7 separate regions of the Homo sapiens genome follow, and all the other regions are linked to region 6. Evidence: fine-mapped expression QTL. A gene starts in region 6. Each other region holds a variant in brackets. All regions are shown on one strand. Distances are from middle to middle.

Region 1 (4,072 bases), 180 kb after region 6:
CACTTCTTCAGGTATTTCGACAATTTTTTGCAGGGAAATTGTTTCTACAACCAGCAGGATGCAGAAAATGCTTTCCAAGAGTTCACTGAATCCCAAAACATGGATTTTTATGCCATGGGAGTAAGCAAACTTATTTCTTGTTGGCAAAAATGTGTTGATTGTAATGGTGTCTATTTTGATTAATATAGATGTGTTTGAGCCTAGCTATAACAATTTAAAATTCACAATCCAAAACCACAATTATTTTTGTATCAACCTAATACTATAGATTTAACAATATTAAATTACAAAGCCTTTTAATTCAAAATAACAGGCATATGTCTTTTGGGTGAACAGTAAAACAGTATATATATATATATATATATATATATATATATATATATATATATATACACACACACACACACATATATAAAACATATATACTGACCATACGTATACACACGTGTGAGTGTGTGTTTGTGTAAACTCCATGCTTGATGGACGGATGGAATAGATCTGTGAGCAACAAAACCACAGTTACTCAGGAATTCTTGACTTAAAAGTCAGCAGCATCAGTGCTAGATGAATGCCATATATACATGAATAGAATCCAAAAACCTATCAGCCTAACTCCAAATTTTAATAACTTCCTCAGTGTCCTCCCAGCACTTAGTAATAGGGCCAGTATTGTTTAAATACTATCATTTTTTCATCGATTATTTAAGTTTCTTGTCTGTTCACAGATACAGTATTTGAAGATTCCAAATTCCTCAATAAAATTAAATTGTTTATTTTCATTAGCAAAGCAAAGTTCTGACAAAATATTTGATGCCTTATTTGAGGTGTTAGGAAAACGACTGGAATTAGATCAATGGTGTTTTTTATAAAGCAAAACCTGCTATAAATATAGATTAGATTTGCAACCAGATTTCATTAACTTATCAAAGGAGCAGTGGGTCAGCAATTTCGAGACATTTTCCTTCAGAACTCTTGTCACATTCCAGAATTTCTCAGAATGATTTTGGTATTTATATGGGAATTTCGAAAGAAACTTCAAAAGAAAGTATGTGACTAATTCTACATGCCTGCATTTTGTTACCTAAATTCTGGAGAGGGACATGTAATGTCAGATGACGACATCTCTACCCTCCTTGCCACCTAGGTACAAAACCTCAGTCATCCCTATACATTCTTCTCTTTCTTACTTTTCAACCACTTGACATCTAAGTATATATGTATGGTTGTTATCCCTAAAATAATAGCCAAAGTTGTCCTGCATTGAATTTGTAAACCAATCTGAGAATAACTGAAATCTTTATAAAGTCTTCCAATCCATGAAGATGATTTATTCCTCCATATATTTGAGTTCTTTTAAATATCATTCATAAAGTTTGTTGTTTTACAGGTTTATTCCATGGTACTTGGTATTTTATTTTGCACATTTTTGTGATGCTGCTATATTTTGCCTGCAACTAACCAATGGAAATTACTTAAAATCCTTCACCAAACCTTTCACTTAGGCATTGATAGCACCCATCAGATGGACAAATTATTATTTGTTGGACCAGGCCTTTTCAAAACTATCAAGCAGATAGTCAGGTCCTGTGAAGTGTGCCAAAGAAATAATCCCCTGTATGCAGGCCATACATTTCAATCTCTGTATCTTTAACCTCCTTGTTAAGTTTGTCTCTTCCAGAATCAAAGCTATAAAACTACAAATGGTTCTCCAAATGGAGCCCCAGATGCAGTCCATGACTAAGATCTACTGCGGACCTCTGGACCGGCCTGCTAGCCCAGCTCCCACATTAATGACATCAAAGGCACCCCTCCCGAGGAAATCTCAACTGCATGACACCTACTACGCCCCAATTCAGCAGGAAGCAGTTAGAGTGGTCGTTGGCCAACCTCCCCAACAGCACTTGGGTTTTCTGTTGAGATGGGGGACTGAGAGACAGGACTAGCTGGATTTCCTAGGCCAACTAAGAATCCCTAAGCCTAGCTGGGAAGGTGACTACACCCACCTTTAACCACTAGGCTTGCAACTTAGCTCACACCCGACCAATCAGGTAGTAAAGAGAGCTTGCTAAAATGCTAATTAGGCAAAAACAGGAGGTAAAGAAATAGCCAGTCATCTATCGCCTGACAGCACAAGGGGCGGGACAATGATCAGGATATAAACTCAGGCATTCAAGCCAGCAATGGCTACCCACTTTGGGTCCCCTCCCATTTTATGGGAGCTCTGTTTTCACTCTATTAAATCTTTCAACTACCAAAAAAAAAAAAAAAGAAAAGAAAAACAATTAACTTTTTTATATATCAGTTAAATTCATCCATGATGTTT[T/TTTATG]TTATGTTTTCTGTATTCTTACTGGTCATTTTTCTATTTGTTCTATCAAGTATCCAGGAATATGTGTTAAAGATGTCCACTTCAATTGTGAATTTCTTGAGTTGTTCTTTCAGTTTTGTTCTTTTTTTACCTTATGCATTTTGAAGTTGTATTATTTCCTGCATACAAATGTAGAATTGTGGTGTCATTCTTTTGGAGTAAACCATGATCATTACTGGCATGACTTACTTACTTACTATCTATCTAGACATGTTGATTGCTTCAATTTCTACTTTAATCTTAATAAAAATACACCAACTTTTTAAAAAGTATTACGTCTTGTATTTCTTTCTGTTTGACTTTATTATTACATATGCTTTTTTCTCTTCATTTGCCAGAGTCTTTGATTGATCAACAAGCTGTTTTAATCTACCATTTTTTATCTCTAACATTTTATGTAGAGCTTCTCTTACTTTTTAGTTATTCAAAAGATGCATCTTTCAATTATTCTAGTCTTAAACGTAAAGATGACTTTTTTCATTTACTGACAATGTCAGTAATCCAAAACTTTTCTATTTAACTCCTTCTACCTTTTATGTTATTGTTGTCCTGAATTTCATTCTACATGAGTTGAAACCTCATAAGGGATTGTTGTTGTTTTTATGCAAACATTTACTTATATTTACCCACATATGTACAGTTTTCTTATTGCTCTCTATGCATTCTTACAATTTTCTACTTTTATATCTGTCATCATTTCCTTCTCTCTATTAGTATTTCTTTTTATTCATATATTTTAGCAAAACGTTTTCTCAGTATTTGTTGTCCAAAGTGTCTTACATGGTTTTTTTTTATGATGTTCAGAAACTGAGATTACTCAACATTTGGCTACATTTCGGGGGTAAGAGTCTGAATTGGATTCACCCTGCTTCCACAGTGTAGTCTTCTAGGTATCCGACTGAAAATCAGTAGTTGCTCTTGACTCTTTTGTAAATGAACGAAAATACACACACACACACACACACACACACACACACACACACACACAAATGTTATAAGATTTTTGGAAGTTTTTCCCAGATAGGTAGTTAAATAATAAACATAATTTAAATTGTTTAGAACAAAACATAGCTCAAATGATTTATAGTATTTATGGTATTACCATATTAAAATGTGTGAAATTGTATATCTTTATTGAAAATTTAATTGTACATATTTATTGAAAGCTAAAGCTTCTAATAAAAAAGAATAGAAAATCCCAAAAAGAAAATATTATTTCTAAGTGCAATTATATAAAACAATAGAATACAGATATATTAAATAAAGATACTATCTGTATATCTTAATTTTATTTACTATTTTAATCTATTTTATGACTTCCTATTGCCCTATGGAAAATTTTCTCAATTTTAATATGTCATTAATTTATTATTTACTCCAAACGTTTATCAATCCTGCTGTTTTCCATATATGCTTGATTTTCAAGATATTGATTTCTTTCTTTAGATAGCAACTTTTTTCACACTTGACATTTTCACTAAATGAAAATTTCTGTTATTTGTATGATTTCTATTCTTGCTTTATATGAATAATAGCTTCTTTATCTAATTAAATATGTTTATCCTGCCTATTTTATATTATTGCCCCACCTGTTCCACAAATATGGTGGTATATGAGGGTATAAAATGTTATATAATAATTAATCTTTTAAAATAATAAATAATCTTTTAAAATAATAATATTTGAACTCCTCAGATACGTAGCTATTTT
Region 2 (4,072 bases), 190 kb before region 6:
CTAGACCTTGTTACTGATTTTCCAATCTTGTTTCTTCTAACTTGCTTACCATCCAGCCAAACTGTTAGTCACTGCTCATGACTGATTCCAGATATGTACCTCTATCCATATCTCCTGCCAGGCAAAATGAACAATCAGGTGTATAGCTTGAAGTTCTTCCCGTTGGAAAAATTTTCTTCACCACTATACTTCAAGGCCACACCTGTAGTGCCTCATCGTCCAATTCAGATAGTGCCAGAATAGGGCAGAACCAACTGTGAACAAGGATAAAATTGTTCTTCCTCATTCTGCTGTAATAGACAGCTCCACATAAGAGAGAGGAGGTGGTGTGGCAGGAATAGAAGCCATGGGAATTTAAGCCACTTTCTATGCAACTTATTTATGACTTACTTCAACATCTTTGGAGGAAAATTCATCTATTGTTTCCACTTGATGAAGTACTGCTACGTAACACTTGGCGAGTCAGACAACACCTTGTTAATATGAATACTTATGGTCACCTGCTTATTTGATGGCCAATACTAAGTGTCAGGACTCTGGTGGGAACCTGTAACAAGAAGGAAGCAGTTTCTCAAAAGGACAATAATTCCCTGTGAGAAAACAAAACTTTTCTCTGAAGTCTGAGAGGGGTATACTGTGAATCACCTATAAGGATCTGCTGAAGGTTTCCCTTAGGATCTCTAGCTGCCATAAGACACCTCAAGCCCCATTGGATTTGCTGGGTTATATGGCCCACATGGCAGGAGAGGTTGAATGACAGTTTGGCTCTGTTGCAGAACCACCTTGTAATCTGGGCCTGACTCAAAACTGAGAGCTTATTGGATTATTTGGTAAATGGTTTAAAGTAAGATGCCCAAATCAGGTATCTATTGGAACCAAAATACAGAGCTCCACCTCTTAGAGATAGCAGGTGTCAGATACACAAACATGTTTTCCATCTGATAAGAGATGTTTCAATATGCACCAGGCCCTAATTCCTACAAATTCCACAGATATTACATGCTCGTGAATGTTTATAGGGTTTATTCTTCAAGCCTCTGGCATGCATATCTCTGGACAAGATATCTAGAGTATTTTCTACCTTCTGCTTATTGGGTTCAATCAGAATGATATCTATATAGTAGGCTTGCTTGATGTCCCGTAGAATGGAGAAGCAAACAAGTTCTTGGTGGCCTATCTATGTAGTAGACTTGCTTGATGTCCCATAGAGTGGAGAAGCAAACAACTTCCTGGTGGACTACACTGTAGCAGAGAGCTGGAGAGTTGAAATAGTCTTAAGGAATGCTACGTGCATTACTGCTTCTAGTGGTTCTTACTAACAAGTATAGAGAAAAAGTATTTATGACATCAGCAGCCTAAAACTACAAAAAAGAGGCTGTGTTGGTTTGTTCCAATAAAGCAACTACATCTGGAAATACAACTGCAGTTATAATCATTACCTAATTAAGTTTATGTCATTCCACAAGATCCATCTGCCTTAGCCACAGGCCAAATAGGTGATTTGAATGGGAATGTGTTAGGACCCCTTCCATCCTTGACTGTGGCACAAACTTTGGTGGTCCCTCTAGGAATGTGTTATTGCTTTTGTTTCACTGCTTTGGGAGGGAGAAAAGTTCTTAAGACTCTATTTGACATTTCCAATTGTAATAGTCCTCAGTCCCTGTGTCAGAGATCCAATGTGGAAATTCTGCCAGTTTTTGAATATGTATCTTCCAAAGATGCTTTCCAGAAATGAGGAAATAAATGTAGAATAGATTTGGGAGCCCATTAGACTCACTGTGAGATGGACTTGAACCAAA[C/A]TGTCATTGATGATTAGACCTTACTCACCTCTTTAAGACCTACCCAGCCTGGTGGACCACAGTGGCAGTTTAGGTTTCTAGAGAGTAGTTATTGTTCGGTAAATTCTAAAAAGTAGGGTTATTTTTATTTTCTTAATGTATAGTCTCTTGGTAAATTGGTTTAGGTCCTTTCGGAGAAAGCTAGGAGAAATATTTACTATGTAAATTACTGAAAGTGTAGCAGAGTCTCTACTTACAAGTACCCATCTTCACTTTCTGCAAGAGGCTCTGGGTCTATAAACAGGTTCAACTCTAGAAGTATGTTGAGGGGTCATTACTTTCCTTATGATAATTTGAGGCAGACTTAGCTTTATCAGACCTAGTGCTTTTCCACCTATACAAATCAAGTGTGACTTTATTAACCTGCCCACCTATTTCATTTGTAGAAACACAATTATTGATTAGTCAATGCAAAACATCTCTGTAGGTCATATCATTCTGGTAATTGCTTCAGCACAATTTTTTAAAACATAGAATTCATGTCCATCTTGTATCTGTAATATAAGTGCCACTTCTTGGATTTCACAACTCCTGGGTCACATCATCCCTTGTGAATTCAGGGAGGGTATTTTCCTGGCCACAAGTCTCACAGATATCCCTGGCATACAGGGAAAAGCCACAACAGAGGACTTTGATGATGATGGTGCTTTCTTTACCAAGGGGGTACCATCTTCGAGGGTCTCCTAGGGAATATAATTTAGAGGTGCATAAGCAGTTAACATGTAATAAATCCACTCCGACTTTTAATCTCCAAAACCCAGTGCACATGATCTTGCCAGAGTGGCTTAATGGAAAGGGCACTATGGAGGTGTCTATAGAAAGCAGTTTTCTCTATGTAGCTACTACATCCGTGAGTCCTCAGCCAAACACCTGCTGGTGGGAATTGGGCTGCTCTTGGTCGACAAGATCAGCAATTAGGAATATACGCTAATTTTCTAGTGGAAGAGAGAAAGGACAAGTTAAGACCTGCTGGGTACCGCTGAATCTTTCTCACTGTAATGACTTCTGCTTCCTTTCTGCTTTGTAAATCTTGTAGAGTTCCTCTTTGGGCCAACTCAAACTTTGAAACATATAGGGAAGGAAATTCCGGGAAATTTAGTTTCCAGTCTTAGCCAAGTTGACAGAACAAAATCAAGCATATAAAATATTATAAATTTCATAGTTTTTCAATTGTATAGCTTTATGAAGCAGTATTTTTTCTTACTCCGAATCAAAGCATGGGCACATATTAAATACAGGGAATCAATAATAGTAAATGCCTAATGTCTTTAGGCTGACCTACTGTTGATTTCACTAGCTTTAAAAATTTATTTTAAGATAATTTTAAAATTACTTGTCATTGTAAGAAACAGTACAGAAACATCCCATATACCTTTTACCCACTTTTCTCCAAGAGTAACATCTTGAATAATTTTAGTGCAATGTCACAACTAGGAAATTGACATAATCCACAGAATATGCATGAATTTCATTCAAGACAACATACAAAGTCGAGATTTTTGACATAGGAAAACGTCATTTTAAAAGATCATTCTCACTGTGTGGTGGAGAACAAAGGAGCAAAGAAGGGAGCAAAAACATACATTTGGAGGTTGTTGTGTAAACCAGATAAGAGACGACAGTGGCTTAGAAGATGATTGTAAAAATAAAAAAAGAGTTGGAGGTGTGGTAAGTAGTAATAAGATGGTAGATACATTTTGAATGTAGAAACCGTAAGATTTGCTTAGGGATTCGGGTGTAAAAAAAAGAAAGGTACCAAAGATTCTTCTACAGTTTTGCTCTAAACAACTGGACTGAATGGTGTTCTTACTTACTGAGATGAGAAAGACTGTAAATTTGTTCATTTTTGTGCCATTCAGGCAGCCTGAAAATTTTCAAAGAACAATTATTATACTGGCCAGCCATCTTTCTGGTCACAATAGGATTATATTAAAATGTTTTTAATTGAAGAAAAACCATAACAACTTTTCTTTCCTCTAACCGCCTCCTTTTACACGCTAAGAAAGTAAAACGAAAGTACTGTTAGTAACTTAGGAGTAGAAAGTAAAATTTCAATGGAGTATTGTGAAAAATACTTAGAGGTGAGTGATAGTTACAAATTAACTACTACACAGTGTGATGCAGCTTAAGAGACTGAGAAAAGGAAATTTTCAGCTTTAAATGTATTACCTTTCAAAAGTTTACAAATAATCAAATAATTTAACTCAAGAAGCTAGGTAAGAGTAGGTAATGGA
Region 3 (4,072 bases), 190 kb after region 6:
GACCTATGAGGAGGTATGCTACACTCGTAAAGAACTGCTTTTGTTTTCTAATTTATATAAGCAAAAAATCTGGAGAACAGGTATGGGAATGGATATTAAGGGTATGGAATAATGGTGGAAGGAACACAGATTTGGATTAGGCTGAATTTATTGATTTGGGCCCACTAAATAGGGATTCTGCATTTAACGTTGCAGCTTGATGAGTTAAAACAGGTTGTAATAGTTTATTTTCTTGGTTGGCTGAGATAAGGATTAAAAGATGGTCCACTGTGAGTGAGCTGGAAATGCCTGATCTCCCTTGGTTTAATGTAGAGAAAGGGATCCAAAGGCTTGGGAAAATAGGGATGGTGGAGTGGATTAGTTACTTTATACCTACCATCCCAGCTGGGAGAGTCCAGAAAATATACCCTTGACCTATGCTTTGCAAAATAGATTTGTGAGGGCAGCACCTGCATCTTTAAAGAACCCTGTAATTGCTCTTCTCTGTATGTCAGATCTAATGGTGGGAACTGCAGTCACTCAACTACAAAACTTGAAGACAATGAGAATAATTGGATCCCTGAGGTGGCAGGGACCAAGTGGCAGCACTCAACTGTCAAAGGGAAGGTGGGTGTAGCTACTGTAATGGATAGTAGAGGCGAAGCAGCAATCAGAATAGTCTGACTCAGGTAGAGCTCTGGCATTGGCTAATTAAGCACAGTGTTTCTAGAAGTGAAATTGAGAGGAAGCCTACTGCATTCCTACTTAATTTATATAAGCAGAAAACTTCCAGATCAAATGGACAAAAGAATAATTTGAATTAAAAAAACAGATTATTGACTGTGTGCAGTGGCTCACACCTGTAATCCCAGTACTTTAGGAGGCCAAGGTGGGTGGATCACCTGAGGTCAGGAGTTTGAGACCAGCCTGACCAACATGGCGAAACCGTGTCTCTACTGAAAATACAAAAATTAACTGGGTGTGGTAGTGAACAGCAGTCCCAGCTACTCAGGAGGCTGAGACAGGAGGACTGCTTGAATCCGGGAGACGGAGGTTGCAGTGAGCTGAGATCACGCCACTGCACTCCAGGCTGGGTGACAGAGCGAGACTCCACCTCTAAACAAAACAAAACAAAACAAAAGCAAAAAATAAAAAATAAATAAATAAATAAATAAAAAACAGAGAATTGGGGCCCCTCAGTCAATTTCCAGACTTGATTCAGTTTACAGACTCAGAATTCCTTGAATGAAGGGGAGGCTGGGTCCCCCTGAGGAAGGACCCCATTACACTACCAAAAATTTATGCTGTTAATCTTTCTCCCGTCCTTCCACAAGGAGATCTCTCGCCTTTTACAAGGGTAACTCTGCATTGGGAAATGGGAAATGATCAGACATTTCAGGGGCTACTGGACACTGGCTCCAAGCTGACACTGATTCCAGGGGACCCAAAACGTCATTGTGGTCCTCCAGTTAAAGTAGGGGCTTATGGAGGTCAGGAAATTAATGGAGGTTTAGCTCAGATCCGACTTACAGTGGGTCTAGTGGGTCCCTGGACTCATCCTATAATCATTTCCCCAGTGCCAGATGCATAATTGGCATAGACATACTTAGCAGCTGGCAGAACCCCCACATTGGCTCCCTGTCTGGTAAGGTGAGGGCTATTATGGTTGGAAAGGCCAAATGGAAGCCACTAGAGATGCCTCTACCTAGAAAAATGGTAAATCAAAAACAACATTGTATCTCTGGAGGGATTGCAGAGATTAGTGCCACAATCAAGGACTTGAAAGATGCAGGGGTGATGATTCCCAGCACATCACCGTTCACCTCTCCCATTTGACTTTGCAGAAGACAGATGGATCTTGGAGAATGACAGTGGATTATCATAAGCTTAACCAAGTGTTGGCTCCAATTGCAGGTGCTGTACCAGATGTGATTTCATTGCTTGAGCAAATTAACACATCCTTGGTACCTGGTATGCAGCCATTGGCTTGGCAAATACCTTTGTCTCCATTCCTGTCCACAAGGCCCAGCAGAAGCAACTTGCCTTCAGCTGGCAAGGCCAGCAATA[C/T]ACCTTTACTCTCCTACATCAGGGGTATATCAACTCTCCGCTTTTGTGTCATTAGCTGATTTGGAGAGACCTTGATTGGTTTTCACTTCCACAAGATATTACACTGATTACAGTATGCTGATTGGATCCAGTGAGCAAGAAGTATCAAACACACCAGATTTATTTGGTGAGACATCTGTGTGCTAGGGGACGGGAAATAAATCTGAGTAAAATTCAGGGACCCTTTACTCCGTAGAATGTCTAGGGGTTCAGTAGTGTGGGGCCTGTTGAGATATTCCTTCTAAGGTTAAGGATAGTTGCTGCATTTGGCCCCTCCTATAACCAGGAAAGAGGTACAACGCCTAGTGAGTCTTTTGGATTTTGGAGGCACCACATTCCACATTTGGGTGTGTTACTCTGGCCCATTTATCCAGTGACCCAAAAGGCTGCCAGTTTTGAGTGGGTCCAGAACAGGAGAAGGCTCTGCAACAGTTCCAGGGTGCTGTGCAAGCTGCTATGCCACATAGGCCGTATGACCCAGCAGATCCAATGGTGCTTGAGGTGGCAGTGGCAGATAGGCATGTTGTTCGGAGCCTTTGGCAGGCCCCCATAGGTGAATCACAGCAGAGGCCTCTAGGATTTTGGAGCAAGGTCCTGCCATCTTCTGCAGGTAACTACTCTCCTTTTGAGAGACTGCCCTTTGCCTGTTACTGGGCTTTGTTGCATATAGATATATATTCATTTATATATCTATATCTATATCTATATCCATATCTATATCTATATCTGTATCTATGTACATATCCTATTGATTTTGTCCCTCTAGAGAACCCTAATACTCTGTCTTCTTTGAGTTAAATATGCTTGGTGTCCTATAATCTTTTTGTACTTAAATATTGATATATTTTCCTAAATTTCAGAAGTTTTCTTTTATTATTCCTTTAAATAGATAATCTATCCCTATCTCTTTCTCTACCTCCTTTTTAAGATGACTAACTCCTAGATTTGGTCTTTTGAGGCTATTTTTTATAGGTATGCTTATTCTTTTTTTATTATAGTTTTCTTTTTTCTCCCCTGATCAAGTATTTGCAAATTCCCTATCTTCAAGCTCACTAATTTTTTTTTTTTTTTGCTTATTTCTGCTATTAAGAGACTGTGATGCATTCTTCAGTATATAAATTACTTTTTTTGAAGCCCAGTATTTCTACTTTATTTTAATCATTTCAATCTCTGTTAAATTTATCTGATAAAATTCTGAATTCCTTCTCTGTCTTTTCTTGAATTTGAATTTCCTCAAAACAGCTACCTTAAATTCTCTATCTGAAAGTCCATATATCTCTGTTTTTTCAAGATTGGTTCCTGGTGCCTTATTCAGTTTGTTTGGTGAGGTCATGTTTTCCTGCATGGTCTTGATGCTTGTGGATGTTCATCAGTTTCTGGTTTGAATTGAAGACTCTGAATTGAAAAGTTAGGTATTTAATTTGTCTTTGCAGTCTGGTCTTGTTTGTACCCATCCTTCTTGGGAAGGCTTTCCAAATATTTAAAGGGACTTGAATATTATGATCTTAGCTATATTTGTATTAGGGGGCACCCGAAGATCAGTAGTGCTGTGATTTTTGCAGCCTTGTATAGGAGCCACTATGGTGGTCTTGAATAAGATCCAAAAGATTTATCTGGATTACCAGGCAGAGACTCTTGTTTTATTTTCTTACTTTCTCCGAAACAAATGGAGTCTCTCTGTCTGTACTGAGCCACCTAGAGCTAGGGGGTGCAAGGACACAAGCACCACTGTGGCCACCATCACTGGGACTGCACTGGGTCAGACCTGAAGCCAGCACAGGACTGTGTCTTGCCCAAGGCCCGATGTGAACCACTACCTGGCTAATGCTTATGTTTGCTCTAGGCTCTAGGATTCTACAATCAGCAGGTGGTGAGGCCAGCCAGGATTGTGTCCTTCCTTTCAGGGCAGAGTTCCCCTTGGCTTTGGGTGGGTCCAGAGATGCTGTCTGGAAGTCAGGGGCTAGAGTCAAAAACCTTAACAATCTAC
Region 4 (4,072 bases), 120 kb after region 6:
CTTTGTGATTATATGCCCAGATTTATCTGAGTATGCACTTAGAAGAATTGCTATGTGACATAGTAGTCTATGTTTTATTTCAGTAGATAGTGTCAAAGAGTTTTCTAAAATGATTGTAAAAATGTTCCTTTCCACCAGCAAAATTCTGCGCATTTTCACTGACACTTAGTATTCATTATTTTTTACTTAAACATTCCGGTGAATGTGTAATTATAATCTTAGTTTGAATTTAATTTGCATTTTCCTGATGAATAATGATAGTAATGTAGTTGAGTTCCTTTTCATATATCTTTGGTTTGAATATGCTACTTTGTGAATTGCCTGATCATCTCTGCCATTTTAAAATTTGGATTGTTTACCTCTTCCTGATTGTTTTGTAGGAGTGTATTATGCATTCTGGATATAAGCCTTTTACCAGATTCTTGTATTGTAAATATTTTTTTCCAGTCTGTGGCTTGCTTATTCAATTCTTAATCATGATTTTGAGAAACAGAAGTTTTTAATTTTAATGTAATTCAGTTGAGTTTTATATTTGTTGTCATTGCTTTTCCTGTTTAAGAAACCTTTGCGTAATCCTAAGTCAGGAATATATTCTGTTTTTTTTTTTCCCCACACAAGTTTGACTGCTTTAATTTTAGATTTAGGTCTAAGATCAAATTCACATTTATATTTAAGAATAGTATGAAGTAAATCTCAAGGTTCATAATTTTTCCATATAGATAACCAAACATTCTACTGTCACTTACAGAAAAGTCCATCCTCTTTTGCTCTAATTAGGTGACTATATTGGAGTGACTGGAAATATGTGGGTATATTTCTAGGTTTTCTTTTCTGTCCATTGGTCTATTTGTCTAACAATGCACAATTAACTCCTCAATTAATATAACTTTATCATGTCTTGAAATTTGAGAATATAAGACCTCTAATGTTGTTCTTTGCTATTTAAGATTGTCTTCGTTTTTTGGGGGAACTTTTGTTTCTATATAAGTTTTATGATCAGCTCATCAATCTTCACCAAAAAAATTGCTGACATGTTGATTGCAACTATATTAAATTTATAGATCAATATTTAGTAATTTGGCATCTTAACAATATTGAACTTTCATAAACTTTCTAATGTTTTAAGTATTCTTTAGTTTCTCCAAATAACATTTCAACATTTTTAGAATAAAAGTCTTGTATATCTTTTACTGCATCATTACTATGTGAATTTTTATGAAATTATTAATCATATTTTAAATTTTTATTTATAATTGTTTATTGTTGGCATATACAAACACAAATAAATTTTCTACATTAACCTTGGATCCACCCAACTTCTTTAATCCATTTTTGAATTATAATGGTCTGTAGATTATTTTGAATTTTCTACATGAAATTATATCATCTTAGAATAAAAATTTACTCTTTCTGTATTAGTACGTATTACCACAATAATACTATGTAGAAAGTTGACTTTAAACTCACTGTTCTAATAATTATTCATATTGTGAATTTGAAAATCAGAGATTTAGGTTTGGTGGGATTTTTGTTTGTTTGGTTTGTGTTTTGTTTGTTTGTTTGTTTGTGTCTTCCTGAGTTACATTTTCTGTCTACAGTTGGCTGGCTATGCAGTGAAGCTCCATATGTCCCACATTCATTCTTCAGAATAACTTGGGCAAGTTCTCATGGTGAAAGTAGAGGTGCAAAGGTAAACAAGTCCAATTATCTAAGTATGTGCGAAGTCTCTATTTGTGTCTTGTTTACAAACAGCACGTGGCCAAAGCTATGAATCACAACATTAAGGGCTGAGTAAAATTTCCTGCCCAGACTTGGACAGTACTTGAAACTTGTATACGAAAAGAACAGATATAAAGAGGGGAGAAAGAATTTGGGCTGAAATTCAATCTATCACACTTTCCCAACCTAATAGCTCATATTTCTTTTTGTTTGATGAGTTAGTTCATCAGTACAATGCTGATAGGAAGACTGATAGTTAACATTTATGTCGTGTTTCTATATGTAATAGGAAGGATCTGGAGTACATTTTTGATGAATATAAAATTTTAAGTTTATGGTTTTCTTCTTTCAGCTCTTCAAGCATTTTTTCCTACTGTCTAATGAACAGTCTGTATTAATTTTAGTTTTGTTCCTGTCTTTATAAGTTTACCTGTTCTCTCTTTTTCAAAATAAACTGTTAATTTTAGAGCCATTTTAGATTTACAGAAAAATTGTGAAGAGAGTACAGAGTTGCCATTACCCCCATAAATGCAGGTTTTTCCTGTTTTAACATCTTACATTAGTGTGGTAAATTTGTTACAATTAATTAGGCAATATTTATACATTAGTATTAAATACATCCATATTCTATTCAGATTTTGTTCATAATGTTCTTTTTTGTTCCAGGATTTCATCTGAATACCAAATTACTTTTGGTCATCATG[T/G]CTTCTTAAGCTCCTCTTGGCTGTGACACTCTCAGACAAGAATTTTGATAATCATGTTTTTATAACCTTGACAGTTTTCTAGAGTACAGTCAGGTATTTCCCACAATGAGAGTTGTATGATGCTTTCCTATAATTAGACTGGGATGATGGGGATACATGGAGGGAAGGCACAGAAGTAAGGCATGGAGGTAAATCATCGTGGAAAAGCTATTTTATCACAGTATGCCAAGTGTACATAACATTGTAGATGTAAACCATGATTACCTGGATGAGGTAGCAATTGCAGATTTTCTTACTGTAAAGTTATTCTTTTTCCTCCCTTGTTATATAGCACCATTTGGAAGCAAGTCACTACGCATAATTCACAATTGAGTAATAAAGATTTATGCTTCACCTCTTTGAAGGTAGAGTATCTACATATATTATTTGACATTCATCTCTATTTGTTCAGTCATTTATTCATATCAATATGGATTCATGGATAATTACATGGGTACTTTATACTTTGGCTTATAATACAATACCACCTTTTATTTTACTGTTCAGATGTTTCCAGCTTTGGACAATGGGAGCTCTTTCAGGTGACTCTTAGTCCCTTTGACATAATACATCATTGTGTTTAGTATGTTTGTTTCACTTTTTAAATTTTTCTTCATTTTCAAACACTATAAGATGCCAAAAACTCATCTTGCATATTAACTGCCCACGTCTTAGAATTAGATATTTCTCTAAGAAGCCCTGATTCCTTTTGTTGGTAGTGTCAGTCCTCCAAATTTGTTCTTCTTCATTATTAGGTTGATTATTTATTCTAGGTCTTTTATCTTCTCATATAAACTTCACAAAAAATTTTCTACTTTTTCCATTAAAGCCTTTAATATATTAATTATAGTTCATTTTAATCCCCTCTCTGATAATTTCATTGTCAACTTTATATCTGCATCTGGTTTTGATACTTTTTTTCTCTTCAGAATCTGTTCGTTCTTGCCTTTTGCCATGTTTAAAGTCAGACATGATGTATCAGGTAATAAAAACTGAAGTACACGTTTAGTGTAAAGGTTTTTGTTAATCTGGGTGCTTTAAACTGTATTTAATATCTGATGGGCTGTGCTTAATGTGTATGCGTCTGCAGGTGTCAGAGGTTTCAAATTTCTCCAGTGACCTTATTTTTGTGTCACTGGTTGACTTGGGCTTCCCTCAGTATTCCTCCTCAAATAATCTTTGTCTCACAACTCTTTTAGCTGAAATACAATGTATTATTTTAGAGCCCTGTTTTTTTGGTGGTAAGTTGTGAAGGAGAGGAAGCATTCTGTAATATTAAAATTAAATTTTGCTATTTTATTGGGCCTGTGCTCCTGGCTCTGACCTTCACAAGTGTTTCTTAAATTCCTTCTTTCACTGTGCATGAAACAGGAAGGCTCAAGAGGGTTGCAGTGAGAGTAAGCCCATTCCTCCAAGTAGGATAAAGCTATGGCAAAGCTTTATCCTGTGGACAGTAGGCGTTTGTAATAGAAGGATGCTGTTAGCTTATTTCTTTTTCCCTTCTTCTGCTAGAGCCACAAAAGGATCTTTTTCAGATCTTCACTATGAGGTCCTGGTAGGGTTCCTGGAGGTAAGACACACAATGTTCCACCTGCCCTTCCACTCCCCCT
Region 5 (4,072 bases), 190 kb before region 6:
AACCGAAAGGAAGAACTGAACAATTAAGGCAATTCTAAATAATTACCATTTCAAAACTGTTTCTTCTATTCCTGGTTCATAGGAAAGAAAAAAGTTATTCAAAGTATTTTTAAAGCATTTGATTTGCAGATGGGTGATTCGTAATAAATAAAACATTTGAGCATTTTGAATTTATATTTCCTGAGTATTTTATTTTTCAATCTTAGCTTCCATGAGTGAAAACAAGTGCCATTAAAAAACATTTCTCTTTAAAGTTGACACTGTGTCTATGAAGTAAATTTTAGGAAATAAGACTGCGCCATCTCCTGGCCACTATCGCCAATTGCAACTGAGCTCTGTAGAGTATATGAATTAGAAACATTGATTCCGGAGAATAACCATTTTTTTTTCAAATAGTCATTTTGGATTATACTACATTAAAATTTCCATACTGTAAAGTGCACATCTACTGTGGATGAGAGTTGCAGTCTTTAAGTGTGCTTATGTCTGTATCTGGGGAAATATCCTTAAAAGTTTGGGACAAGAATATATGGCAGCCATTCTCAAAGGTAAGAATAATTTTATTCAGAAAACTAAAATAGCTGCTCAAATAAATATTTATTAACTGCAGATAGTTGATGCTTAATGCACTGAGGAGAGATATAAGATTTCCAAAGGGGAAAAACTGCCATGAAGTTTCAGAGGTATTCTTGCAATTTTAAAAATAATTTTTGTCCTCCCTCTGGCGCATTTGAAAACTATTTATTTCAGTCAGTGGAAAGTCCCTGAGGAAACTGCTTACAAAACAGTTTCTAGGACATTTTCTTTGTATGTCATCATTTTTCTTTTTTGAAGGACAGTAGCTTCATTGTTATTATTAGGAATAAATGGAAGCCCACTGGTGGTAAAAGATAGTTGATGAATTAGAGATTGTTTAAACTATTTAAGCAGCATGACTCACTAAAGATTTTTTAAATTATATGTATATACGTATGTGTGTATGCATCTATATGCACATATATAAGTCTATGTAGACATACATTAAACCCCTATAGGTTATATTATCATGGAGGCGTTTTTCATGAAGCCAGTAAGAATGTATTTCCAAGGAATATTTTGCCAGCAAATGTGATATTAAATTACTTCAGAGTATCTGATGCTGATTTAGGATGTAAATGTGTTTATTAGGTTATGCATTAATTTTAATGGTGTGAATATAAGAAAGCAGATCTTGAAAAATTTCGATGTACTCAATATTCATTTATTATAAAAAAGTTTTATATTCTAAGCCTAAACCGTAGTACAATGTCTAGCAAGTAGTTGAAATTCAATTCATATATACTGAGTAAGAAACTCTTATATATAATAGATCTCTTTGAGACTCTGATAAAACTGAAGAACTCTACAAAATGGCGTACAGACACACAGTTTTGCATACAATTTCACTGGGTTCTTGAATCTCCTAAATGGTATTCAGGTTAGATTCCTTGGTGATTCTTCAGTTGTTTCTATTGCATTAATCCACTTATTGAATGCTATTTTTCTGAAAAGTGCTAGATCCTGTAGAGGATACTGAATGTAAAATATTGTGCTCTAAAGGAAGTTACATTATACAATAGAGATATGGTTTAAAAAAAAATCCTAGAGTTACTGCATTATGTATGTGGTTTTATAATGATGTGCTTGTATCTGAGAAACTGAATTGCTTTTGACCTTGGGAGAACATCCATTTTGGGCAGTATTCGAATTTATAAAATAGTTTTATAATCATAAAACTTAATTTATATAATGCCTTACACATTCCATACTCTTTATAATAATTTAAGGACTTAATCTTATCAAATAGGTCATTTGTCTAACAACTCA[G/A]TAGTATATGAGGAAATTGGGGCTCAGCAGTAGGGTTTTTTCTCCCTAAGGTTAGTAATATGAGTCATCTGCAGTGGAATTACTGTGCTCACTTCAGCAATTTCAGACTCCAATGTCTGAGGAAGGATTCATGTCTGTTTTTTTCATTCATGGCCTTGAACAGTGTCTGATATAGGTTCTCAACCTATACACTAGATTTCCACTGACTGAAAAAAAATAAAAGCAAGTATTAGCTTAATAATTTCTTCATTCAACACCTATTTAATATTTTTAATAATCTATTTGTGCCATGCACTGTGTTAGACACAAGAGATAAAGAAATGATTAAGATACAAGACTTTGCCTCAAGTTGCTCACGGTCTATATTGTGTGTACAAAAACAACCAATCAACCAATGTTGGTATTATTTGACAGTGTTGGTACATCAATGAGTTCTTTGTAATCTTGATATTTATATCCATGGATGCTGCTTGAAGCCTGAACTCCTAAGCCACTAATTAGTGGTGGGAAGAAAGAGGGGGTAAATGCTTTAAGAGCTAGCATATAACAAAAATGAATTGGGTTTATTCTGTATCATATAGAGGGCCTAAGAGGCAAACATTTCATAGAGTATTCAGAAGAACATAAGGAATGACTTTTTTCACAGTTAACAGCTGTCCAAGAGTGTAGTGGCTGCCTCGTATGATAAAGCATCTGGAACTCATTGAAAAATGCATGTAGAAAATACCAATCAGAGCCTGATTGATGGGATTTTTAATTACTGCTTTAATATTGGGACTGAATCATTTTGTAGCTCATTAGAAACATGGAAAGTATTTGTTAAATAAATAAGTCATGGAATTTCAATTCTAAGGCCATGAAAATTAAAACACCCTACCATTATTTATCAATAAAACACAGTGCAGTTTTGCTCATCAGAATTTTGCCTATGTGATAGCCTCCTGAGAGTAGGCAGAAAAGAAAGACATAGAACGCAGTGCGTGACTTACAAGGGAATAAAACTGACAGAGGTTAGTGTAAGGTATATAGGCATGAGTGGGGCTTAAAGAGGATATGGGAGAACACTGAAGACAAATATTAGTACAATTCCTATAAGGTAAATACCAATATGTCTTTCTAGAAGAAGCAATTGTTTTGGAATTGAGGAAACCTAGAATGGATTTATCTATATGACTTGGACAGGTTACTTATACTCTTTGGACATTTATTTCTTCTCAGCAAAACAAGGGTAATAATATTTAACTTGCAAGATTCGTGGAGATAAAAGCTTAAATAAACGGCAGAGTACAGTAATGCTTATATACGGGATGCTAAATAAATAACTCTCACTGTTATTACTTTGTATTAAGATATTATCTTTGCCCCCTCGTGGCAGTCTCTCAACAAAGAGTACTGTAATTGCATTTAATCCACTTAGTGGATGTGGAGCCCAAAGGGCAGCCATCACTAGAGCAGCGTACAGGCTTAGTTCCAGACTTCGTGTTTGGTTGTTCATTTCATAGGCGAGCCACGTGTTTTGTAACATATTCTCGTATATGTTATTTGGATTATTTTCAGGGCTTTCTGAAGAAAATAAACATCGAAATCATAGTTTGTGTTTATGCTACATTTATTGGGGTTGTCAGGAAAACAGAGTCCATGTAATATGTGGAAATAAGGGAGTTATAGAAATTTAACCTAACATAAACAAAGGAGGAGCTTGAAAATGAATGTCTGGAAGAGGGAAATTGGCAGATAAGAGAAAGATTCACTCATCTACTTGAAGCACTGGTGTGGGCTGACAAGTGGGAACTGAAGCTCTGTGAAGTCCAGCATGTCCAATCACTCAAATGGTTCCCAGCCAGGGGTTCTGAAGGGGGGCTATGGGAAACCAGTGCCTCTGTGTAGGTTCTAGCTCTGTTGGTCTGTGAGCAAACACCTGGTGGTGAACCTGTGCCACCATGGGTCAGTGAGGTCAGAAGGCAGGAAGACAAGCTAGATGTGGAGTAAGGAAAAGTGAAGACAGCCTGGAAATCACTGGGTATCTAACCTTAATGACTTGTGTTTCACTTCTACCTTAACAATCTCACCATAATTCCTTTTTCTGGGCCAATCTCACTTTGAACAATACAGGAAAGGGAATTCTGAGAAATGTAATTTGCAGTCAGCCAAACTGATAGTGTAGTCTAGTACAGTGTACTCCTTGTCAACACGGCTTTCAGAGCAAAAACAAAATCATTCTTTTACC
Region 6 (4,072 bases):
AACTGGATTTCTCACACTCAGTTTCAGTTTCTTCACCACTCAAATATGCATAGTTTCTCCTCCTTGGGTAGAAGCCACAGTGTTCCTCAGTTACAAGGAGTGCTTTATATGAGAAATGGCATAAACAACTGTTGATACTTGTTATGGAGAAAAGTCAAATAACTCAGAAGCATGTGAAATCTGAAGTTTAATATTTTGAAAGAGTTGCTATGTAGAAAACAGGTGGCAGAACTAGAACCCATGGAGGAAAATTAAGGGATGAAGATTTTGGTTCAACACCAGAAAAAAATATTTTTAAAAAGAAATGTAATTAGTGTTGTCTAAATCATAATTGAACAGTCTCAGGAAGCAATGAGCTCTCTGTGGATAAACTCATATTCTGGAATGTAATAAGGCAAAGATGTAATAGAAAATGATCCAGCAATAGATGGGGATAGAAAAAATATAAGCATATAGTTATATAGTTTGTGTCAGTTTCCTCATGATTGTCAAGGGTTGGTGGAGGGTTAGAGAAGAGGAGGTCGCAGGATGCTATGGATTGAATATCTGCATACCCTTACCCCCAAATCAAGTTAGTATGTTGAAGTTTAATCATTAAAATGATGGTATTTATAGGTGGAGCCTTTGGGAGGTAATTAGGACATGAGGGTGGAACCCTAGGAATGAGATTCATGCCCTTATAAAAAGAGATATGAGAGGGCTTGTGTCCTGTCCGCTTTCCTCCATGTGTGTTAGATTGAGCAGCTAAAACAGATACACCATACATTGGGTAGCTTATGTGACCACACAGTTCTGGAGGCTGGGAAGTCCAAGATGAAGGTGTCAGTAGATCTAGTGTCTGGTGAAGGCTGGCTTCCTGGTTTGCAGATGGCTGCTTTTCCCTTATATTCCCACATGGAGGAAAGCCAAAAGAAGCAAGCCCTCTCATATCTCTTTTTATAAGGGCACTAATCTCAGATGAGACAGAGCAACATAGAATGAAAAAATAAAAAGAACAAAATAGGGAGCATGAAATTTTAGTGACTTGACAAACAATAGACATTTTTCTTTCTCTGCTCATACATCGACAGAAACTGGGAATATTTTTGTCATATTCTGCCACACTTGAACAAATTTCAGTGGAGGCATCATAACTGAGCCTGTGTTAAGACCAAACCTTTACTTGACTTACAAAACTTTCTGTGAGTTTTTTTCTTAGTATGGTTGATTTCTTCAAGAAAAAGGATGTAAGTTTACCAATAAGGTATTTAAAGTACAAGTTACTTAATTCTTTATTAGCAAATAGTTGGCTGCTAATTTTTGCTTCTGAAAACACTTAATAATTAAAGGCTACAATATTTATATCTCAAGAAACGTCTCAGGTTTTTTCTCGTCACTAAGCTTAAATCTTACTCTTAAGCAAAAATATTTTAAATTTGAAAACATACATTGTATTTGACTATTAGCTTTTTTTTTAAAGAGAAGTCATTAAACTTAAAGCTAAAAATAAATTTTATATTTATGTGTAGCAGTTACCATATTGATGTGCTAAAAAGTTTATAGATTTAGCTACCGCAATAACAACTTTCTAATCAAAAGTTGAGACTGTTGTGAACAACTCTTTTGTGAATATAACCTAGCATTGTACAGTATAGATTGACTATCGCATATGCAAAATGCTTGGAACCAAAAGTGTTTCAGATTTCAGATTTTTTTTTTTTCAGATTTGGGAATATTTATTTGCATATGCATAATGAGACATCTTAAGGATGGGACACAAGTCTAAACACAAAATTCATTTATGTTTAATATACACTGTATACACAAAACTGAAGATAATTTTATATAATATTTTACGTAACTTTGTACCTGAAACAAAGTTCTGTCTGTGTTTTGACTGAGATTTGTCATATGAAATCAAGTGTGGAATTTTCCACTTGTGGCATCATGTCAGCAATCAAAAAGTTTAGATTTTGGAGCATTTCCAGTTTTGAACTTTTGGATTAGAGATGCTCAACCTGTATTTCCTACAAACTGTCATTAGGAAAAATCAGAAGACTAATTATTGTCTAAATTTTACCGTCTAGAATTTCTAATATCATTCAGCATTTTCAACTTTTTTCTTAATAGTTTCATATTGGACTGCTTGCTTCAAATTCACACATTAACCTAATAATTAAAAGCTAGTGGAAAGAATTATCAGATTAAAGCCTTAATTTCTACAAAGCATAAGTTAATAGAGAAAAACAAGTGCAAAGAGAGGCACCAGGTGGTTCATAGGACCTTCAGGTAAAACAAATGAGATTTTATTAGGCTTACAGATAGAATTTTTGCCTGTGTGTCAAGGGATAACAGGAGTGTTGATTTGAGTGGCTTATGAAACAGGCATGTTTAGCTCAGCAATATTACTCATCACTTGGCTTTTTAATCTGCCAAGAGATGGGTACGATTTGCACTTATGAACTGTGTGTAATTATGGTGATTCAGGTTTTGGCTTATAATGAATCCTCCATCACAGTCTGTTTTCTCGGTCTTTTATTTTCTGTTCCTCTAAGGGAAGAGAGACCAAAGAGAATTCTACTTTGACCCTGGCTTAAGAGTGGAACATAGATGTCTATAAAACTATGTGGTATGTACATTTATAAAAATTTTAATTTGCATTTTCTCTAGGTTTTATGTTTTTGGTGATAACAGAATAAAGTGTGCATGCCATCCAAGATAAATGGATGAAGGAAGTTCACTTCTTTTTAATTATCTTATACTGACAGATAAAGCAAAATAGAAAAAAAATTCTGTATTTAACCTTAACAAGCTGAGACACACTAGAGAAGTGGAAAATAGATTGTGTGCATCTGATCGTGCTGCACATTCCCTTTAGGTTGCAATCTCTGCTGTTATTACCGACAACAACTGAGACTACAGTTTTAACTCTGTATTTACTTCTAGTTATCCCACAATTGGTACATAGTATTGGATGGAGCCCTGTATTTCAAGGAGTTCAACTACCTAATTTTCATAGCTGAGATAACTAAGTTTCTGAGTCCGTTTTCCTTTTTCCAGTCTGATCTCTCCTTTTCTCAAGGCTACTTTCGTTTCTGATAACATACTAAAGGTTATAGGATTTATCGGTATTTTGCCTCCTGGGGTCATTTGTTATTAAAAAAGAAACTCTATTCAAATAACTGAATCTCTACTATTGGATTTTCCAAAGCTATGATAGACCAGCTAGTGAAACTATTTTGTACTGGAATTTGGCAGGGTGATGGGGTGGGGAGAAGGTGTGGAGAGGAATTCTTGTCCTCAGTCCTGATATTTCTTTCCAGGTGAATGTGGTCTTCCGTGTGCTACACTCCTTGCCTCTCTCTGCTCTTCTATTCACTATCTACCAGAGAAGATGGAGTGATTCACTCTGATTAATAAATTTGGAAAAAATCAATTAGACATGCTCCGAATAGTTCCACCCTTTTTGTCTTAGAAGACAGCTGCCCTCAGAGAGCAAGATTTTACCTTTGTAAATTGGTACACATGATCTAGCTTAGCATTGCTTTTAACAGGGGGAAGTCTGTATAATTCCTGGATTATTATCATGCCAGTGGGTTCTCATATTATACTTTATCCTCCAAATTAATTTTTTGTGGTGAAATTGATGCTTTTACTTCTTTTCTTTTCTTTTCTTTTTTTTTTTTTTTTTTTGAGACGGAGTCTCACTCTGTAGCCCAGGCTGGAGTGCAGTGGTGCCATCTTGGCTCACTGCAAGCTCCGCCTCCCGGGTTAGCGCCATTCTCCTGCCTCAGCCTCCCGAGTAGCTGGGACTACAGGCACCCGCCACCACGCCCGGCTAATTTTTGTATTTTTAGTAGAGACGGGGCTTCACTGTGTTAGCCAGGATGATCTTGATCTCCTGACCTTGTGATCCACCCGCCTCGGCCTCCCAAAGTGCTGGGATTACAGGCGTGAGCCACCGCGCCCAGCCGATGCTTTTATTTCTATCTTCTCATTTGTGTAAAGTGAATAATGATATCTCACTGTGATTTCTAGTTCATTTTTGTGACTCACAAATATAGATACTACTTCCGTTATATTACCTGTTTAT
Region 7 (4,072 bases), 110 kb after region 6:
TGCGAGCAGACTGCTGTTGTAAATCTTTATCAATATCAGTAAAAAATTATTTTGAAATATTGATTTTAACTCACTTCCATTTGATGATGTATATATTTTAAGTACAATTATCCTGTAGTTTTATTTCAAGGGGTTCTTTGTTAGATTTTGTGTTCTGTCATTATGAGTTACATTGTGTAGCTTGACACCATTTTTTATATTCTGAATCAGTGTGTCTGGCCTGGGAATTAAATGTTTCTTAAATTTAAGAAAATTCACAAGTAAAAGAGCCTCCACCAATGTATCTTTAGGAATTTTTAAAAATAATATTTCCCAATTTCTTCCATGAGATTATCAGGTTTTATTCTTGAGTCACTTCAGACTTCTTCAATTTTATCATTTAGTCTTTATTTTTGAATAATATCTAGTTTCCTCCAAAACAGACCACTTCATTTATAATATCAAATGTGTTTTTAGAGAGTTGTTCTTTATTACCTAATATTTTTCCGATTTGTTCTCTATCAGTTTTAACAACATACTGTTAGTCCCAATTTTAGCTTATTTGATTATGAGAGATTTGAATTATTTTAAGCACTGATATAACTATTAATGTTCTATAAGTACCAGAGATACATATTAAAAGAGGCTTAGAAACAAGGTATTGTCTCAAGAGGTGGAAAGTCAAGGGTCACATCAAAGATATAGCCTGCTTTAAGAACCTCTTTCCATCTCTTCCATCTGCCATCATTATTCACTTGTCTTCTCCAAATCAAAAGAAGGCTGCTTTTTCTTTGAAAATAATTTCTGAAGAAAGGGGAAGTAGAAAAAGTAAAAGTACTGTATCTCACTGGTCAGCTTGTGGCTTGTCTATTCATACCCATTAGTTTTTAAATTTTATTTTGAGAAAAAAAAATCTGAAATTTATAAAAAGGTTGCAAAACCACTACAAATAATTTTTCTTAAGTGTAAATTTCTAACCTAATTTCACATAACTTCCTAGTAATGTAGTGTACATTTTCTACAAGTAAGTCTTCCTCCTACAAAATCCAGTATCACAAACAACATCATGAAGTTAACACTGAACTATTAATAACATCTAATCCTCGGGTCTCCTTCAGGTTTCAGCAATTATCTTGCTTTTTCTTGTTTTTGAGGACTGAAGAGGTGGTCTCTTGCTGATATGTGAATGGATTCAGTTGCTGTTAGTTTGCTTAAAATTCTCATGTTAAATTAGGTAGGCCTATAATTTTCTGGTCTTCTGAGAGCCTGTGGTTTTTATATTATTGTAATGCTTACAAAGTGTATTTTAAGGTGTTTTCTACTAGAAGATATTATATAGCATTGGTATAATTTATTATGAAAGTATTTTGAAAAACACAAACTGGTTCAGGTTTATGGTTTCTTGGTGGGTAAATATTTCTATTCAAGTATATTAAAGTTTCTAATTTATGAAGTCTAAATATCAAAGTGTCTCATTTATATATCTATTGGTTTTTATCAGTTACATTGTTTTAGATAATTTTTCATTTCATATTCATTTTCAAATTTGCTTTAAATTGTTCATACACTTTGCTTAATATATTTGTTTGCAGTGTCTTTGTTGATAGCCTTGGCATCTGACATTTTTCTTGTTCAATCTTTATAAAATTGTTTATTATATCAGTCTTTTAAAGAACTTCCTTTTTGATCTTTTCTCTAGCACTTTGCTCTATTTTGATTAATTTATGTTCCTGTTACATATTTGCCTATTTCTATTTTTCTGAGTTACTGTACCTTTCTCAGTAAATAGCAACTGTCCTCTGTTAAATGCTCAAACTCAAAACTTGAAGTCATATTTTGATTCTCTCAAAACTCACATCTAATCCAGCAGAA[A/C]TCCTGTCAGCTTTGTGTTCAAAATATTATGGATGGGATAACTTTTACTTCTATGAATGATGGGATTTTGAAAGTCAGTCCTCCATGGGGAATAACTAAAAACAACCCTGATAAATGACCAAAGATATAAATATTTAAAAGCATCAGTGACTTGAACTCTATTTTGTTGAAAATAATAAAACTACACCTCTTTTCTTTGGTTTAGATTTGTAGGAATATTTTTCCATCCCTTCACTTTCAGCCTATGTATATTCTTAAAGTTAAAGTGAGTCTCTTGTAAGCAGGATATACTTAGGTCTTTTTTTTTTTCTAATCCACTTAGACTCTCTAAGATCCATTTATGTTTAAAGTAATTATTGATATGTAAGGACTTACTAGCGTCATTTTGCTAATTGTTTTCGGACTCATTTGTATTTCCCTTTTCCTTTCTTTGACTCAGGTTATTTTCCATTATGATTTGATGATCTTCAGTGGTGTGTTTCAGTTTCTTTCTCTATATTTATTTACTTTGTGTGTGTGTGTATCTACTATAGGTTTTTACTTTGTGGTTACTAAGAGGTGTACAACACCTTGCAGTTATACCAGTCTATTTTAAGCTGTAAATAAGTTAAGTTTAATTGCATACAAAAACTTGACATTTTTGCTTCTTCTTCCACCTTCAAATGTTATGCTTTTAATATCACAATATATATCTTTTATTGTGTATTTATTAATAAAATATTGTAGCGAATGTTATTTTTAGCACTTCTGTCTTTTAAACTTTATATTGAAGTTAAAAATGATTTATAAACCAACTTTACAGTATTAGAGTATTCTGAATTGACCTATATATTTGCCTTTGCCAGGATATTTTAACTTTTACATATTTTAATGTTAGTAATTAGGCTATCTACATATTCAATGAATCTCCATCAAAATTCCAATCACATTTTTCACATGAATAGAAAAAGCAATCCTAAAATTCATATAGAACCACAAACAACCTCAAATAGCCAAAGCAAAATTAGAAGAGACATACAAAGCTGGAGACTTCATACTATCTGGTTTTAAAGTATATTATAAAGCTAGTCATCAAAAGAGTATAGTACTGGCATAAATACAGACACATAGACCAAGGAAACATAACAGAAATCCCAGAATAGAATAAATTCACACAATTGTGGTCAACTAATCTTCAACAAGTCACCAAGAATACATAATAAGCAAAGAATGGTCTGTTTTAAAAATGGCGGTGGAAGCGTGATGCGTACAACTTTGTTCTTTTGGCTCAGGATTGTCTTGGCAATGCGGGTCCTTTTTTGGTTCCATATGAACTTTAAAGTAGTTTTTTCCAATTCTGTGAAGAAAGTCATTGGTAGCTTAATGGGGATGGCATTGAATCTATAAATTACCTTGGGCCATTAGTGTGGCCATTTTCATGATATTGATTCTTTCTATCCATGAGCATGGAATGTTCTTCCATTTGTTTGTGTCCTCTTATATTTCGTTGAGCACTGGTTTGTAGTTCTCCTTGAAGAGGTCATTCACATCCCTTGTAAGTTGGATTCCTAGGTATTTTATTCTCTTTGAAGCAACTGTGAATGGGAGTTCACTCATGATTTGGCTCTCTGTTTGTCTGTTATTGGCATATAAGAATTCTTGTGATTTTTGCACATTGATTTTGTATCCTGAGACTTTGCTGAAGTTGCTTATCAGCTTAAGGAGATTTTGGGCTGAGACCATGGGGTTTTCTAAATATACAATCATGTCATCTGCAAACAGGGACAATTTGACTTCCTCTTTTTCTAACTGAATACCCTTTATTTCTTTCTCCTGCCTGATTGCCCTGACCAGAACTTCCAACACTATGTTGAATAGGAGTGGTGAGAGAGAGCATCCCTGTCTCGTGCCAGTTTTCAGAGGGAATGCTTCCAGTTTTTGCCCATTCAGTATGATATTGGCTGTGGGTTTGTCATAAACAGCTCTTATTATTTTGAGATACATCCCATCAATACCTAGTTTATTGAGAGTTTTTAGCATGAAGAGTTGTTGAATTTTGTCAAAGGCCTTTTCTGCATCTATTGACATACTCGTGTAGTTTTTGTCTTTGGTTCTGTTTATATGCTGGATTACGTTTATTGATTTGTGTATGTCGAACCAGCCTTGCATCAGGGATGAAGCCCACTTGATCATGGTGGATAAGCTTTTTGATGCGCTGCTGGATTCGGTATGCCAGTATTTT

Direction of the effects. Alleles are on the strand shown, and positions count from the first base shown. SD is a standard deviation of normalised expression in the study named. Not every link is listed here.
In carriers of allele G in region 4, the expression in subcutaneous fat of the gene that starts at base 2,512 in region 6 tends to be lower than with T alone (large effect, 0.81 SD a copy in TwinsUK).

What was found. PIP is the estimated chance that this variant, and not a neighbour inherited with it, causes the effect.
Region 1: its variant is the best candidate, but not a certain one, in a credible set for the expression of LINC01239 in ileum (GTEx, PIP 0.86).
Region 2: its variant is the best candidate, but not a certain one, in a credible set for the expression of LINC01239 in thyroid (GTEx, PIP 0.77).
Region 3: its variant is the best candidate, but not a certain one, in a credible set for the expression of LINC01239 in transverse colon (GTEx, PIP 0.59).
Region 4: its variant is the best candidate, but not a certain one, in a credible set for the expression of LINC01239 in subcutaneous fat (TwinsUK, PIP 0.71).
Region 5: its variant is the best candidate, but not a certain one, in a credible set for the expression of LINC01239 in esophagus mucosa (GTEx, PIP 0.76).
Region 7: its variant is the best candidate, but not a certain one, in a credible set for the expression of LINC01239 in subcutaneous fat (GTEx, PIP 0.90).

Annotation. Positions count from the first base shown.
Region 1 is chr9:22,821,588-22,825,659 of GRCh38, forward strand. It overlaps LINC01239 (long intergenic non-protein coding RNA 1239), which reads left to right. Exons shown (of 6, transcript NR_038977.1): 5 at 1-11; 6 at 1,665-2,626. Among named protein-coding and RNA genes, the nearest start is that of LINC01239, 180 kb to the left of the region's middle. The variant T/TTTATG (reference allele first, on the strand shown) is at 2,324.
Region 2 is chr9:22,457,976-22,462,047 of GRCh38, forward strand. No RefSeq gene overlaps it. Among named protein-coding and RNA genes, the nearest start is that of DMRTA1, 13 kb to the left of the region's middle. The variant C/A (reference allele first, on the strand shown) is at 1,800.
Region 3 is chr9:22,831,869-22,835,940 of GRCh38, forward strand. No RefSeq gene overlaps it. Among named protein-coding and RNA genes, the nearest start is that of LINC01239, 190 kb to the left of the region's middle. The variant C/T (reference allele first, on the strand shown) is at 2,047.
Region 4 is chr9:22,765,577-22,769,648 of GRCh38, forward strand. All of the region lies in intron 4 of LINC01239 (long intergenic non-protein coding RNA 1239), which reads left to right. Among named protein-coding and RNA genes, the nearest start is that of LINC01239, 120 kb to the left of the region's middle. The variant T/G (reference allele first, on the strand shown) is at 2,424.
Region 5 is chr9:22,452,306-22,456,377 of GRCh38, forward strand. It overlaps DMRTA1 (DMRT like family A1), which reads left to right. Exons shown (of 2, transcript NM_022160.3): 2 at 1-3,435. Among named protein-coding and RNA genes, the nearest start is that of DMRTA1, 7.5 kb to the left of the region's middle. The variant G/A (reference allele first, on the strand shown) is at 1,846.
Region 6 is chr9:22,643,689-22,647,760 of GRCh38, forward strand. LINC01239 (long intergenic non-protein coding RNA 1239) reads left to right here and starts at 2,512. Exons shown (of 6, transcript NR_038977.1): 1 at 2,512-2,608.
Region 7 is chr9:22,755,864-22,759,935 of GRCh38, forward strand. The region is part of intron 4 of LINC01239 (long intergenic non-protein coding RNA 1239); the gene reads left to right. Among named protein-coding and RNA genes, the nearest start is that of LINC01239, 110 kb to the left of the region's middle. The variant A/C (reference allele first, on the strand shown) is at 1,852.